Linked DNA regions of Homo sapiens: region 2 is linked to region 1. The links come from fine-mapping of genetic effects on gene expression. Tissue or cell type: sun-exposed skin. Region 1 holds a variant in brackets; the other region holds the start of a gene. All regions are shown on one strand. Distances are between the middles of the regions.

Region 1 (8,147 bases):
CAAGAGCTAGGTGATCCAATTCCCACTTGGTCATGCTTGGCTATACCAACCCTCCCCTCCCACCCATCCTTCCCACAGTGGGTGTGAAGTCTTCTCCCTTCCCCATTATTGTCAAACCATCCACTTGCCTTCTTTGATCTTGCTTGTTGCATGGAAATAACTCTAAGGATTGTCAGTCTGTATAAAATTCATTGCAAAACCGGATGGCAGTACAGAAATAACAAACGTCCCATTCCACTTCAGTCCAATTCAGACAATGGAACAGAAATAAAAGATTCCAAAACTATGGTATATTTAAATTTAATAAAGCCCTTTTCACCCTCCAGACCCCCAGTTTTCCAAATAAACTCATAACAAATATTCCACGTGAGCCTTGTCAGGCAGTTTTAATATTCAGTGTCCCACAGCAGCACCGAATCTAAGGAGAGCAGCATAAGGCATTTATATAATTGCACAAATTAGAGATACCCCGAATGAAAGGTTTCCTGCTGGTTTTTCTCTGCTCTTTCATTTGTTGGTTACAGAATTAGGAGTGCTCCTGCTGTGCCGCAGCGTCTCCTCTCCTGGGCTGCATGCAGAGCACCACTGCACCACACCCCTCTGATAATGGCTATCTGGGGCACCTGAATGAGTAGCCTGTCCCCAGGGCTCCTGCCTGGGGACAGGCTGCTCCTCCAGCCCAGGTGGCTCCTGAGCGAGCGGCCACCTGGATGCACGCCTCCTTCTGTGCATGCCTCCCCACGCCTCCAACCCAACTCCACAGTCTGCAAAGTGACAGCCAGAGATTAGGCGAAACCTTGCATGACACATTTGTATGAGATAGCTTATCTTTCCGTGCCTTTGTTTATAAATTGTCCTTTAAAAAGTCCTGGAAGGTTAACTCCCCTTGAAATGATTTGCCGGAAGCACCTTCTGCAGATTGAAAACAGTTAATGTTTGAACATTTTTAGAACACGGGTAACTAATGGAAATATTTGATTCCACGTAGTTTAACGAAGAGTTTGTTTCTTCTTTCAGAGGTGTTGGCTGGTTTAGTGGAAAGAGGATTAAGAGCTTACAGGCCTGGTTGAAGGTGCTGCACTGCTCCCTAACCAGTTGTGTCATCCTTAGCAAACTTCCCTCCCTAACTTGGTTTCTCATTTGTCAAATTGCAAAAATATAATGTCCACCTCGCCTGTTTTATGTGATACCTGTTAGAATCAGGGAAGATAACTTTATGTTAACCATAAAAGCACTTTATATTATTATGAAGGTAAAAAATCATGTAGTAAAAGGTGCATGTATTTTAGTCAGGAACCCTGGACTTAAGTGCTGACTCTACCACGTGCTGTGTGATCAAATGTAGGTCAGCTCATCTATCTGATTTCATTTTTATTTTAACTTGTAAAATAATTTCCTCATTTGTCTCTCAACTAGGACAGTGTAAATGCAAGCTCTTTGTAAAACTGCAAAAGTAGTAAATCACAAATAAATATTCACGAGGTGTCAGGAATTGTGCTAGGTGTACAGTGTATTCTTTATTCTTTATAATATTTATTGTTATTATTTGAAAAAAGTTATTTTATTTTCTATTTTAGATTCACAGGGTATGTGTGCAGGTTTGTTACATGGGAATATTGTATGATGTGAAGTTTGGGCTTCTATTGATCCCATCGCCCACACAGTGAACATAGTACCCAATAGGTAGTTTTTCAACCCTTGCCCCTCTCTTTTCCTCCCTCTTTTTAGAATCCCCAGTGTTTGTTGTTCCCATGGTTGTGTCTGTGTGTATGTTTTTTGTTTCAAGAGATGGGCTCTTGCTATGTTTCCCAGGCTGGCCTCAAACCCCTGGGCTCAAGTGATTCTCCCACCTTGGCCTCCCGAGTAGCTGCCATTGCAGATGTGCACCACCATGCTGGGCAACAGTGTGTTCTTTTATCATCACAGTGACCCTTTGAGGGGAATAATTATTATCCCAGTTTCCAGCTGAGAAAACTGAGGCTCTGATAAGTGGAGCCAACATTCAATCACACATTTGTTTCACTGCTGAGCCTGTTTTTAATCACTGTCCACACAGCCACAATTACTGTTTTACTTTTATTGTTTCAGCCAATGACAGTGACATAATGAAGGCACGGAGGATGTTATTTCCTCAGAGATATGGGTTCTTATGGTTGACCTGGTAACATTACATTTACAGAGCACCTTATGTATTCCTCAATTATAATTGCATTTCCACAAGAAATGTTAAGTACTAACTCCCTAAAAGACTGTGAGAAGGGAGAAGACCTCAGTGACCTTGATCCCACCCCTCACGAGTTAGCTCTACTGCTAACAATTATTGAGTACTGAATTTCTCACTTACTAGATTCCTACTTTAGTACAGTGAATGATATCTCCTCTATGTTGCCTTTGGTCATTTATATTAATAAAATGAGGAGGCGAGCACAGGGAAACACAAATATATTATGCGAGGCTCTCTGATAAAGGATTTTTATCATAAAGGGCTGAATTTCTAAGCTGAGCATGGGTACTTGTTATTTATTTATGTATTTATTCATTTATTTATGTTGGCTTTAGAGTATTCACTTCCTTGTTATTGGATAATAACTATTAGAAGAGAAATTTGTCACTCCTCCTTCTGGTCCCCCCTGCACTTATTCTGTGTCTGATAGCGTTGGTGGGTTAGCAGGGGATGATTTTCTATATAGCCCACGCTTGATGATTCTGCATAGAGAATAGTAAAGACCAAAATTAGCAGGGTTGGAGGTAAGAATGAAAAGGACTTCAGAAAAGAGAAAAGGGTTTTCATTCCGTAGAAACGATTTGTGCTCTAAGGATCTGCCACCCAACCAGCCACTGGCTGAGCACCGTCAACATTCTCAGCACTAAGGATGCAAATGCTCTTGGTTGTAGCCTCCTTTCTAGAGGAAAGTTGATCTTGGATAGGGGCTGGGGGTGGGAGCAAAGGGATGGAAATTGCTCACTGGGGCCAGGTGAGGACAAATAACTTTCAGGGAAGAAGAGCAGAAATCTCTTTCATGTAGAAGAGTTGTTTGATCAAATAGTTTCAGATGCTCAAAATCTGTGGTGACCAGAGGGGAGGAATTCAGTTAAGACATCCTTCTACTGAGGATAAACAACATCTTGTGTCTACTATGTTGGCTTACAATTAACCTAACTTGGAGGGAGTTTATATCCTGACTCACAGTTGTATCCTTTATGAAGGAAGTCTCATCAAAAGAAGTCATGGCTCTTGGGGTGCTTTATCTGCAGAAACTGGACTCAGGGCAGGGCTGGGGAAGGTGGAATGGCGGTTGTGGGTCATAGCCACAAAGACCCTGCTGCAAATATGTCATTAAAAGCAGGGAGCTCTGTTGCCTCAAGCCTTGGGGTGAGCCGGGGATCTTCCTTCAGAGTGCTATGCTTCTGACTTTCAAGAAGTGTCTTTCCCTCACAATTCATATAGATTCTTTTATTTGTTGTTTTTTTGACTCCTCCTATAGGCCTGATATGGGAAGAAAAATGAAGAAATGCTCAGCTAAACTCGTTTTGACATGCACCTTTTAACATTCTGCAGCTGCCTCAGCTTTTGATGTATGATTTTTCTTGTTGGTCACTTTGCAAGCCAGGGACTTCTGGCTGGTGATGCCCCACGTGGGCCCTGCTTGCATGCTGGCATGCCCCAGCTTGCCTGTGTTACAGCTTGTACCTACGTTCAGCAGTTCCCAAGCTCCTGTACCACGCCCAAGAAGAATGAAGATATGCTGGA[C/T]ATTGAACGGTGAGGAGGGTGGAGAAGAATTTTATTGAGTGATAAAACAGCTTTCAGCTGAGAGGGGACATGGGGGTGGTCCCCCTACCCAAAGGTGAGAAAGTTCTGCGTGTGGCTGGGTCCAGGGCTTTTTATGAACTCAGAATGGGGATTGCGTGCTAATTGGTTTGTGAATATGCCAAAAAAGTTAAAGTGAAGGCACCACTTAAATGTGGGCATGACAGTGTAGAAAAACCAATTAAATAAGAGTAGGTATATGTAAAATAGGTGAAGGGTGGGGACCAATCAGAGGAAAACACACCAAATGGGAAGACAAGTTCTCAACCTAGTCTGAGGATTTAACTGGTAGCTTGGCTTTCAGGCTTTAAACTGTCTTCGGCTTGGAGGTGGGGTTTCACCAGGAGCCACCCCTATCTGCCCAGGCATTTGGTTGTCTCCTGTCACTATAAATTTCTTTTGCTCTCAAAATACAGTCTCTCCTTGCCTTTTCTGATCTAACTTCAAACCTGATGTGGGTGTGGTGACATTGTTTTCTGAAGTCATAATCAGACACCCCCCGTAATTTCATGATCAAACAACCTCTGTGATCCCATAAGCAGACACCCCTATAATCCCATGAGCAGATGCTCCCTGTGATCCCAATCAGTTGTCCTCGGAGCTCCCTCAAGAGCCCCTGGGCCCCACCTCTTTCATCCCATTACCTGGCACTCTCAGAACCCCTCGCCAATTTCCCCGTTTGAGCACTCCTCCCCAGCAAGCGTCAGAATTTGGGGGAACAAAAAGTAGCTCTTCATCAGGAACAAGTTGCCCTCAACTGAAGGGAGAAGGGTAGAGGGAAAGAGAAATAAATCCCTAACGGCATTATGGATTTCACAGCTCTAGGGTAGATACTTGGAGAAATAAATGCTCTGAGCCACAGTCTGCATATAAAATGGGATGCAGAAAAACTACCCCAATTCTTACCCTTTCCATTCCCTTCTCTTTTCTCTTTCCTTCCTCTTTTCCTACCTTTTCTATTTGTTAAATGCATTTGCTGTTCACAAGGTCTCAGAGAACAGTATGTTTCTAAATGCTTCTCTAAAATGCAGAGGTCTAGTTATATAGTGCCATTAGCATCTTTCTTCTCAACACAAGCTAACCACCTAGAGTCCTGACATTCATTCATGGATTCCTTTGTTCATCTCATTTATTGAGTGTATACTTTGTTCCAGTCCTAGTGTTTCCAAAGGAATAAAAGCAATGACAACTATTATTCGTGGAGTATTTTAATCAGTAGACACTATATTAAGTGTGTAACAGGCAAAATACATTCACAAAATGGTCCCAACAGCTTAATTGTTACTGCCTGTTTTCCAGATGAAAACTGAGGTTTCAAGAATTACATCACTTGGTCAAGGTCAGCAGAGCCCGGGCTGGCACACAGCAGTTTGAGGATGGACTCTAACCTTGCTGTATGCTGTGCTGTTTCTAGGACTGGTTCTCCAACTTTAGCTGCATCAAAATGCCTGGAGGGCTTTTAAAAACATGCTTTTCTAGCCCCTGCTCTCAAAGTCTGTGATTTATAAGCCTGAGAATTCTCATTTCCAATAAGTCCCCAGATGTTGTTAATGGGGATCCCACTTTGAGAACCACTGCTCTATGCTTCTGCTGTGCCCACGGTCTCCCTCAGGTGTATCTGCTTTAGGGAAGGTGAAATGTACCTTGCAATTAATTTGCGGCTTAAATTCATGCTACCTGTAGATGGAAGAACTTTCTTTCCTCACCCGGACTCCAAATGCTACCCTTTTCCTGCCCTGTATCCGCAGTTGTGAAGTCACCCTGGATTCTACTTCTTCTTTTGAGCATTCTAAGAAAATACTCTGGGGAGAAAACCACTTTGGCTTGAAGTGCCGGTTGCTCTTAGTGACGCTGAAGAAGCTACTCCGTGTGTTTCAGGGTACTGGGTATGAAAGTGTGGTACACAATACAGGCTGGTAAAGAATCCCCACATTCGCTTCCGCTCAATACACCAGCATCAGACTCTAGTTGTACTAGAACACCATTCTGAATCCTGAAAACAGATAGCAAAAACAGCAGCTGTACAGGGACTGTTTATTTATGGAATCCCTCACGTAAACAGAGTGAGGGTGATGGATCATCACTCGGCCCATAAACATGACTGTGCTCCGGCAGGGGCCTTGTCCTCATCTGAGCCCACTGACCTCTTCCTGTGTCTGCAAACAGTGGCAAAGCGGAAACAAGGAAAATAGGCGTGAGGAAATGGTGTTGAGTTGCAAAACATGGAGAGAACAATTGGCATTGCGATTCCCAGGACAAGCAGGACCGCAGCCGCTCGCAGAGGCACCAACTTGAGAGGGGATGGTTCTGTTCTCTGGCCCTGAAAGTATGCACTTTCTGCAGCCTTGAATTTGTCCTGCCTCTAAGGAAGTTATTTACAGTTTTGCACAGTGGGATAGTTTTATGAGCCAACCCTCTCATTTTTATGAGGGTTCCCGGGGTAAAGCAGTTATACAATCTTACACCAGCACACCAACTTCAGTGAAGAACAAACAATATAAAGTAGGCCATCCAGACCCATAAAGCAGGCAACACTGAACAGTCGTGATTTCAGTTCAGTTCAGAGGTGACCTGGCTTATTACGATAAGATAGAGGAATGAACAGGGCCTACGCAGAGAGAGCGAGCAAGTGAGTGGGAAATAAATAATTCATTGTCTCCTTCCAGAAGCTGTAAGTTGAAGGGACAGAAATCTTGTTATCAGAAAAAGGACCAAAATTCAATTGCTAGAATGTTCTTTCAAATTACTTTTCAGATTTGTTGGTTGAAGGAAATGACATCACCTTCTACCAAATATTTGGTAAGCAATCCATCATCAACACAAGGCTTTCAGATTTTAACATGGCTTTCTATGTATAACAAACCAACTTTTCCTCCCTGAACTTGTGGAGAATGAGGTCTCTGGGTGTGCTTGTATTTACAAATGAGTTTGCTAAGCTTTGACTTCATAAGAAGACAAGGTTAATTAGGAGCTAGACTGTGGATCTTAAATTTATCGGCAGGCTAAGTAGCTGGTGACTGCCCCAATCAGAGTCAGCTTCCAGGAAATGAAACGGGACTTATTTACATTTAGAGTGATGCCCAGCTTCTTAATCACCTCAAAGCATTTACAGATTAACTTTACTACCAGCAGTTCAAGAGGTAGAATGAACCCTGGGAGGGCATGTGCTTCTCTGTCTCCCTCTTCTTCTGGAGCTGCCAATTCCTTATTTCAGCCTGTGTTCCTTGCCTGTATCTTTTTGCTAAACCCTGGAAAGTTTCTTTCTGATGCTGTTCTGTGAAATGTTCTGTGAAATAATCTGTGGTTTATTTGGTAAGCCTCCTGATAAAGCAGTTTTCTAAAACCTTACCAGAATTGCTAAGGATCACCAGCATGGCCTGGTATATGTGCACAATATAAGGCAGAAATCATTCTGGTAAACTTTCTTTGATAGAAAATATTTCTATTAAATTGTTGGGTTATTATGGATTGCACATGCTGGATAACAGAGGTGACCCCAGGCTTCTCACGTGGCTCTGTGGTTGCTTATAAATGAACACTAGTAAGGATTAGATAAATTTTTGATTAGAAATTTCTAGTTAGCCAATAAAAGTGACCAGAGCAGTTAGGATGATAGCTACATATATCAGTGGCAGTTTCAGTCACATTTTAGTTTAACACAATCTCCAATTCAATTTGAAATTTTTATTATGGTATTTTAATCTGCAGTCTCTAATTACTTTACAGTTTCTCAGCAGAGAATAAGAGTTGCTGGTGGGCTGTGAGTGATAATAATACCTTCCCTGCCTTATCCAAAGAACTGCTGTAAAGATTTATAAGATTTTTTTTTTGTCAACTGAAAGGAGTTGTGCAAATATAAGCTATCGTGACATTCCATTCTTTACTATTTTAATAACATATTTACCCATATTTTTGTTTTAGTTTTAAAAATTGAAACTACATAAAATGCTACCTCTTTAAAATCATTATGGTTTTTTCTTTATGCAATAAGCTACTACGCAAAATCTTTAAAGAAAACTGTCTTCTAGAAGGAATTAATGAAAAAAATGGTCCCATTTGGTGCATTGTCAAGAGTACCTTTTTGGTTATAGAGCAAAGAATGGAATATTTATTTGCATTTAAAGGGTGCGTATGCCTTATATGTAGAAATCCAATACACTAGGAATTTGGATAGGATGGAGACCCTTCCTTCTTGCTAAATGACAGCAGCTATGAGTCCAAGAAATAGGTTTTTGGGGTTTCAACTTTGACTATAGAAGTCAGTTGCTTATTTCAGCAAAATGTGGTACACTTGGGTTCTAAGAGCCAATTCTTAAAAAATGAGCAGCAGCCAGCGAGT
Region 2 (8,147 bases), 250 kb before region 1:
TTCTAAGTGAGTCATTTAAGTCCCAGCTAATGGATACCATTAAGAGTTCATTATCATGCTAATAGCAATCAACACTGTGAAGGGGTGGGAACCTCAGCCCATCAAGTGTCCCTTCGCTGCACTTGGCTCTCCTCGCCCCCCTCCCCACCCCTCCTGGGCGCCCCCTCCCCTCCGCTCAGACCTGGGACAATGGCATCTGCTTTGGATAAGACACGGAGCTCGCCGTGCCCGACCGCCACGTCAGGCCAGTGCTGACGTCGCTGTAGAGGGAGCCCCCGCCGCCGCCCGGCCCCCCGCCGCCGCCGGGTCCCCCGCCGCCGCCGCCCCCCGGCCCGCCGCCACCCCCCGCGGCCGTGGCGCCCGCGCCCCCGCCCACCGCGGCGCCCTTGCTGGCCCAGCAGCAGCGGGTGCACAGGGAGCGCCAGGACTCCAGCGTCTTGCCGGACCAGACCCACACGCCCGAGGTGATGCCCACCACTAGGCACATGAAGTACTTGAGCATGAAGACGGCGTAGTCGGGCCTGCGTGCCTGGTCGGGCTGCAGGTCCCGCAGGCACGGGCAGTTGTGCGTGGCCTCCCAGCGCGGGCGGTTGTGCTGCTCGTAGAAGAGGCAGGCGACCACCACCGCGGCGGGCACGGTGTAGAGCACGGTGAACAGGCCCAGGCGGATCATCAGCTTCTCCAGCTTGTGCGTCTTGGTGGGGCCGTCCTGTTGCTTGATGACCGAGCGGATGCGGAAGAGGGACACGAAGCCGGCCAGCAGGAACATGGTGCCGATGAAGAGGTAGATGACCAGCGGCGCCAGCACGAAGCCGCGCAGGTTGTCCAGGCTCTGGTTGCCCACGTAGCAGATGCCCGCCACCGGGTCGCCGTCCACCGAGCTGAGCGCCAGCACCGCGATGGACTTGACGCTGGGCACAAGCCACGCGGCCAGGTGGAAGTACTGCGAGTAGCCGGCGATGGCTTCGTTGCCCCACTTCATACCGGCCGCCAGGAACCATGTGAGCGACAAGATCACCCACCAGATGGAGCTGGCCATGCCGAAGAAGTAGACCAGCAAGAAGACCACGGTGCACAGCGCGGGGCCGGTGGTCTCGTAGCGCACGTGCTGCTCCACCGCGCCCAGCTCCTCGTACTCGCCGCGCCCGCCCGGGCCGCCCGCGCCCGCGCCCGCCGCGCCCGCGCCCGCCGCCGCGCCGCCCGCGCCCCCAGCGCCCCCCGCGCCCGGCGCGCCACCGCTGCACGCCACCTTCTCGTGGCCCGCCACCAGGCGCACTAGGTAGCCCACCGACACGAAGAGGTAGCAGGCCGAGAGGAAGATAATGGGCCGCTCCGGGTACTTGAAGCGCTCCATGTCGATAAGGAAGGTGGAGACGGTGGCGAAGGTGGACACGAAGCAGAGCACCGACCACAGGCCGATCCAGAAGACGGTGAAGGCGCGCTCGTCCTGGCTGAAAAAGGGGTTGTGGCAGGGCAGCGCGCAGTTAGCGATCTGGCCTGTCTTGACGCGGTTGTAGAGCGGGTGGCGCTCGCTGGACACGCTCACCATAGGCGCGCGGCACTGGCACCCGGGCTCGCAGGGAGCCGCGCCGCCGCCAGGGGGCCGCGCCTTCCCGCCACCGCCGCCGCCGCGAGCTGGGGGCGCCGCCGCGTCCCCGCCGCCACCGCCCCTGCCGCCGCCGCGGTGCGGGGGCCTGGCCCCCGGCGGGCGGCCGTGGCCGCTGCCCGAAGGCGGCTGCTCGCCGGGCGGCGGCGGCGGCAGGCGGCGCGGCGGGCTGGGCGCGGCGGTGGTTAGGTCGGTGCGGTTGTAGTCCATGCACAGCGTGTCAGGGTTGCCTTGCTCGGGCAGCCGGTCGCAGCGCATGCGGTCGGGCCAGGCGAAGCCGTACTGGCGCATGAGCGGCGCGCAGCCGGCCTTGGCGCGCTCGCACACCGAGCGGCAGGGCGGCAGCGGCTTCTTGTAGTCCTCTAGGCAGATGGGCGTGTACATGCTGCACAGGAAGAACTTGAGATCGGGCGAGCACTGGATCTCCACCAGCGGCCAGAACTGGTGCACCTCCAGGCCCGCCTCGTCTTGCGTGTCGTGGTTGAACTGATTGGGCATGTAGGTGTAGTTGTAGCCGATGCCCTTACACAGCGGCACGGTGATCTCTTGGCATGCCAGCTCCTTGGCCGAGGCGGCCGCAGCGCCGCTAGAGCGCTGCAGCAGCGCCAAGGCGGCCAGCAGCGAGGTCACTTCCAACAGGTAACCCCACTCCATGCTGTGCGCCTCGGCCCGGTGCCCTCGCCCTCCAGGCGGCGCGCAGAGGGGTGCCGGGGGGGGGGCCCACGAGAGAGCCGCAGACGGGTACAGCGGGTGATCTGGGGTCTCCCTTATGCTTCGCCCGGGAGGGGGGTCTGCCGATAATCTAACCCCTTCTAGGGGCGCGTCCGCAGCGGCGCGGCCCGCAGCCTGGGCAGGGCCCTTCCGCACTCCTTTCCGCCGCTCCGGGGGTTTGAAGGCGGCTGCAGGCGCGCGCCACAGTCCGTAGGTCCGCTCTGCTGGCCCCGGGTCGCGCTCAGCCCTCGCGGCGCAGAGCGGCCGGGCCTCGGCTCATCGTCCCGCGCTCGCTCGCCTCCTCTCCGCGCGCCCGACCACTTCTCCCCGCCGCGCCGGGCGGCGGTGACTCCGCCGGACAGAGAGGGCGGAGGCGCCGCAAGTTTCCTCTGGGGCCGCGGTGCGCAGTCAAGATGGCTGGGCCGGGCCGCTTGCCGCGCCGGGTCAGCCCTGGCGGCCACCACTCGGCCCCCGGGGGCTCATGCCCGCCCCCAAGGCCAAGCCGCCGCCGCCGCCGCCGGAGTTGGGGACCCGCCTCGGCCCAGGCCGCCGCCCTCTTTCTCCGGCGTCCGTCCTTCGTCCGTCCGCCGCCGGGACAGACGGACCCCCGCCGCCTGGAAAAGTCAGCGCCGCGCTCCGGCCGCAGTCGGGCGAGGTGCACACAGTCTCCTTCCTGCTGGACACCCAGGAGCAAATCCAGACCGGAAGGCGGAGCGGACACCTGAGTGGCGCGGCCCGCGCCCAGCCGCCGCCTCCTCCTCGGCGGGAGCAGCGCCCTTAGCCCAACTTCCCGGCTCCAGCCCCGCTCGCGCCGCGCTGCCGGCTCATGAATATTTATACAGCGCGGACTCGGTCTCCGCCCCCAGCCCCGCGAGCCAATCGCCGGGCGGTAGGGCGGAGTCCACGCGCTCCCAGGGCTCAGCCTTCCTTAAGGCAGTCCCCGAGTGTCCGCACTGCTGTGCGCGCTCTCTGCGGATGGAGAGTTTTGGTAACCTTGGGATTGACCGCAGAGACAGAGTGTTGGCCATGGCTGTCCCCATGGCGCTGAGTGCGTCGGAGGTCTTGGTCCCCTTACCCCGAGTCTGCCCTTGGGGACAGGGACGGGGTTTGGTGCAGCGCGCGCCTCCCCGGCGCGTTTCAAACCAGCCAAGCCCCTGCTGCCACCCTCCGCAAATGTGGGTGATCTGCAGGCGGCTGGGGTCTCGTGCTCCTCGGGGCGGCAGGAAGGTCTCGCAGCAGGCGAGCGCCGGGGAGGCCTGCCGGGGCTCGGCGCTGCAGAAGACCCGGGAAAGGGTGTCCTCCTTGGGGTTCTCAGAACGATGGTTTCTGAGACTTGGAGATGTGGGGGGTGTGGAGTCATTCTAAACTGGGGCTGGACCCGGGACGGCCCGGGTGAGATGCCCCGGAGCCCAGCCTTGGGCGCGCGAGGGGCGCGGGGGACAAATGCCCGCCAGAGACTCTCCTCCCGCCTCCGCTGCGTGACCTGGGGGAGCCTCAGTTTCCCCACCTAGAGAGTTGGGTGATCATAGCACAGATCTCCAAGGGGGCTTTGATAATTAGGTGAGATAAAATATAGGAAGCCCCGAGCCGCCGTGCTTTCTTAGGAAAAATCATTCAATTTCTTTCTAAAATTCAAAACAAACCTCGAAACTTATAAATAGGACAGGCTGGAAACTCTGGGGCTGGATTCCCTGTCTTCCCTTCGTTCTTTCAGGACGTCTATTCATCCATCCCAAGTTCACAGGCTTTTGCCAGAGCCTCCTTTTCTCTGGTGGGAGGCGGCGCTGCGCTCTGGCGTGGACTCCGCGACACGTATCTGCTCTCTGCACGAGGCCGGAGCCGGACCCGGGCTGCTTTTAGCAGCCGCTTGGGCCACCGCCAGCGAACGCTGCCCCCGCCGGCTCCGCCGCCACCTTAAGACGGGCCGGGAGGGGGGCTGCGGGCGGCCCGGGCCGGCGGCCTGGCAGGTTCATTTACGCTTGTTAGGGCGTCCCAGGGGGCTGTCTTTCTCCTAGAATGGAGTGTTTATTTTTTAATTGATGTGCTGTTTCATTTAGCGCTTGTATGGAACTCATGCTGGGGCAGTAATTACTGTAATCTCGGGAACAAGCATTTCAGTTAGCCAGGAGGGTGGCAGAATATGTTTCTCTCTCTCTTTCTCTCCCTCCCTCCCGCCTCCTCCCCATCTCCGTCCCCCTCTCTCCCTCTTCCTCCCTGCCTCTCTTCTGTCTTCCCTCTCTCTCTCTCCCCACCTCCTTTCCTTCTCTCTCTCCCCCACCACTTTCTCTCCCCCCTCCTCCTCTTCCCCTCCTCCCTCTCCTTCCTTCCCTCCCTTTTCTCTCCGCTCTCTCACTCTCTTCTTGTTTCAAGATTTTTGCTATTTGCCAGGTTTCATACCGGAACAAGTACAGTTGGAGAACAAAAGTTGCAGAGGGCGTGGGGACAGAGCAAAAGAATTAAAAGTACATTTGAGGCCAGTTCCGGTTTTCGGGGCGCTGCTGGTGGTGGTGGTAGCTCGTGGTTGTCCGTTCAGAAACAACTCTTGTCATAAAACAAAAATAACCAGCAGTATTTGTAGATTGCTTGAGCTGATGGCATCTATGTCTTCCTCCTCCTGCTTTCTGTAGCTCAGTTAGCAACCTCATTATGAAACATATTACAAGTAGACTGTCAGACCGCACCCTGCCCCAGCGCCCCGTTTTTGGCAAGTTCTGTGTTCTAGGCATATCCACCAATCTATAGTTATACCCCCCTATCTTTTTAACTTTTTTAGTTTTAGTCTATAGAGTTGAACCTCTTTATACTGAAAAACAACACTTCCTTCCCACTTTTGTTTTGGAAAAACTAAAGTCCGTAGGAATTCGGAATTCAAAGGCTTCAGAAATATTAGCTGATTCAGCAGAAAACGGGCTATTCAAAAATACAGACTAGACCTTTACTTGATTAAAAAATTTTTTTTCTTTTCTCACCTCCTGCAAATCGGAATTCCCACTTGTATGTTGAATGTAGAAATTCACTATCTCTGCGGTTGGCACCTTGTTTCCAGAGGGCGAGTCTCCAGAACGCATCAGCTGCAGGTAATTGCCAGAGGTTCCAGTGCTGATCTGAGGGCAGCGGTGCAGGCAGAGCCCCAAAGACCAGCAAGGGTGCTGCACTGCCCGCACCACAGATGGGAGGGGCTGGTTTCCAAGAGCAACACAGATGGTGAAAAGTTTCTGTTGCTTTTCTTCCACGGGGAAATGTCAAATAGTGAAGTTTAGAATTACACTACATAAATTTGCTAGAATTGGGTAAAAACAAACTGACATTTGAAAATTGAAATTGAAGCTGAAAATGGTTGATTTTGGCTCTTAATTGGCTTTAAATTTTTTTTCTTTTTTCTTTTGAGACAAGATGAAAAGTTTGATGATGTGGAATGTGGAAATTTTGGGTAAGTATGTTAAGTTTGCATGAGAAAATAAGCAGACTGAAGTTCAGAATTTCAAAAATCATATCAGCTATTTGGGAGATCTTAGTGATTTGTGAGGTTAAAACCAGTTACATAAAAGTCATGACAAATGTACTTTTAATTGAGAGAATATAAGAATCGCATTTTACATCTACTGTTAAATTAAACGGCTACTTGGTAGTCTTTCAGAGAAGGGAGAGACTTCTGTAGCCAATTAGTGCGTAAAAGGTAATGATGGGTTACCTAGAAGTAACCAGAACATATATCAACTTCTATGGCTAAATAATGATATTTTCATTGTATGTAAAGCAGCTGTTTTTTAGGGGAGGGGAAATAGCTTTAGTAGTGACATAAATAATGTAGGGAAGTTTCTAAAGGGATTTCTGAGCAGATGGCTTGTTGCTGAATGGCCTGCAAGCAAATAATGTAAACAGTTGGAATCAGGAATCTACCTCAGAGGAGGGAAGGTTTTACAAAACGTTGGCTACCGAGTTAGACAGGGGACTATCAATACTGTCTGTAACAAATTTAAGAAACTTTGGGGAAATCATGTTCCAGTGGATTACCATCTAAAAATCCAATATAAGAATCTGGATGGAAGAGAGAGCCTGGCATATACTAACAGAATGATACGTTCCAAAGATTAAATGAGGAACTCTTTGGTAACTAATACAATTTCTCAGGTGTTATAAACTGCCAAATATTGGCCAGATACGGTGACTCATGCCTGTAATCCCAGCACTTTGGGACGCTGAGGCAGGCAGATCGCTTGAGTCTAGGAGTTCGAGACCAGCCTGGGCAACATAGCAAAACCCTGTCTCTACAAAAAATACAAACATGAGCTGGGTGCGGTGGCATGTGCCTGTAGTCCCAGCTACACCAGAGGCTGAGGTGGGAGGATCACTTGAGTTTTGGAGGCTGGGGCTGCAGTGAGCCATGACTGTATCACTGCACTCCAGCCTGGGCAACAGAGTAAGACCCTGTCTCTAAATAAATAAATGCCAAATATTATTTTCTCTCAAGAAAACAGTTAAGTACTATATTATTAGATAATATAAAATTCTTATCACTGGCTGGGCTCAGTGGCTTACGTTTGTCTTAGTGCTTTGGGAGGCCAAGGTGGAAGGATCGCTTGAGGCCAGGAGTTGGAGAGCAGTCTGAGCAACATAGTAAGACCCGAGTCTACCAAAAAAAAAAAAACCAAAAACAAAACAACAACAACAACAAAAAAAACAACAAAAAAACAAGGCCAGGCACGGTGGTTGTTCACGCCTGTAATCCTAGCACTTTGGGAAGCCGAGGTCAGAGGATCACTAGAGGTCAGGAGTTCGAGACCAGCCTGGCTAACATGGGGAATCCTTGTCTCTGCCAAAAATACAAAAATTAGCTGGACATGGTGGTGGGTGCCTGTAATCCCAGCTACTTGGGAGACTCAGGCAAGAGAATTGCTTGAACCTGGGAGGCAGAGGTTGCAGTGAGCTGAGATTTTGCCACTGCACTCCAACCTGGGCAACACAGTAAGAGTCTGTCTAAAACAAAAAAAAAAATTAGTCGGGCCTGTAGCACGCACCTGTGGTCCCAGCTACTTGAGGCGCTGAGGTGGGAGGATCGCTTGAGTCCATGAGTTTGAGGCTGTAGTGAGCCGTGATCATGCCTGTACTCCAGGTTAGGTAATAGAAAGAGACCCTGTCTCAAAAAAAAAAAAAAAAAAAAAAAAAAGACAAAACCCACAACAACAATAACAAAACCTCTAATGGTAATATTGGGGCATCTTGGTGTTTTAAAAATCTGCCTTTCAAAGGGTTATGTCTTGAGTCTCTCAGTCCATAAATGGAAGGGGAGGTAGAGGTGAACTGGCCTCATCAATCTCTGCTAGCTTTAAACAGGTGAGATTATTTTTATATTCTTCCTTATTAACATGAAACTCAATTGAAGTGCTGCTGCTTCTGTTCTCTCCACTGCCAGGAAAGAGATCCTGTTGGAAGGAAGTACTCTTTGCTGTGTCTGCTGTCACCAGGCCAAGGTGCACATGGATGGAGATAACAGGCCCACCTGTGCCACTGGCTGGCAGGCCCATGCTCACTTTACATGCAGCTGCTGCTTTGGAATACGGCGACCGCACTGCCATTATTTAAGTTGATAATTATTCTAAAATTTGTTTTAAAAATCAATAATTGATTTTTTTTCTCATCCACATGGGAATATTTGCCAGATATTGAAGCTCTTATTATGGCATGCATTGTGCATTAGTTTGGTAGATTTCAGGTCCAGTAAAGACCTCCCGGGTAAAAGTGGCTTAGCCAAGAAGGACATCTCAACATATCAATAAGTCTAGAAGCAGACATTTCACCGTCAGTTCTTTCTGCAGCTCCAGGAGGTTAG

Which allele goes with the higher level. Positions count from the first base shown, and alleles are read on the strand shown. Sizes are in standard deviations (SD) of each study's normalised expression.
In carriers of allele T in region 1, the expression in sun-exposed skin of the gene that starts at base 3,127 in region 2 tends to be higher than with C alone (moderate effect, 0.50 SD a copy in GTEx).

What was found. PIP is the estimated chance that this variant, and not a neighbour inherited with it, causes the effect.
Region 2: it holds the start of FZD8, and the variant in region 1 is fine-mapped to the expression of FZD8 in sun-exposed skin (GTEx, PIP above 0.99). The same link has a PIP of 0.9 or more in unexposed skin.

What each region holds. Positions count from the first base shown.
Region 1 is chr10:35,884,222-35,892,368 of GRCh38, forward strand. No RefSeq gene overlaps it. Among named protein-coding and RNA genes, the nearest start is that of LINC02630, 11 kb to the right of the region's middle. The variant C/T (reference allele first, on the strand shown) is at 3,752.
Region 2 is chr10:35,639,170-35,647,316 of GRCh38, forward strand. FZD8 (frizzled class receptor 8) reads right to left here and starts at 3,127. Exons shown (of 1, transcript NM_031866.3): 1 at 1-3,127. The coding sequence starts at 2,260. The coding sequence ends at 176. LOC124902528 (zinc finger protein 469-like) reads right to left here and starts at 3,677. Exons shown (of 2, transcript XM_047426128.1): 1 at 3,461-3,677; 2 at 2,559-3,244. The coding sequence starts at 3,677. The coding sequence ends at 2,559. It overlaps MIR4683 (microRNA 4683), which reads right to left and starts at 2,083; the gene lies at 2,003-2,083. It overlaps LOC105376494 (a long non-coding RNA gene), which reads left to right and starts at 4,146. Exons shown (of 2, transcript XR_930820.3): 1 at 4,146-5,747; 2 at 7,731-8,147. RefSeq lists enhancers at 1-496, 1,316-1,475 and silencers at 752-1,046, 1,586-1,675.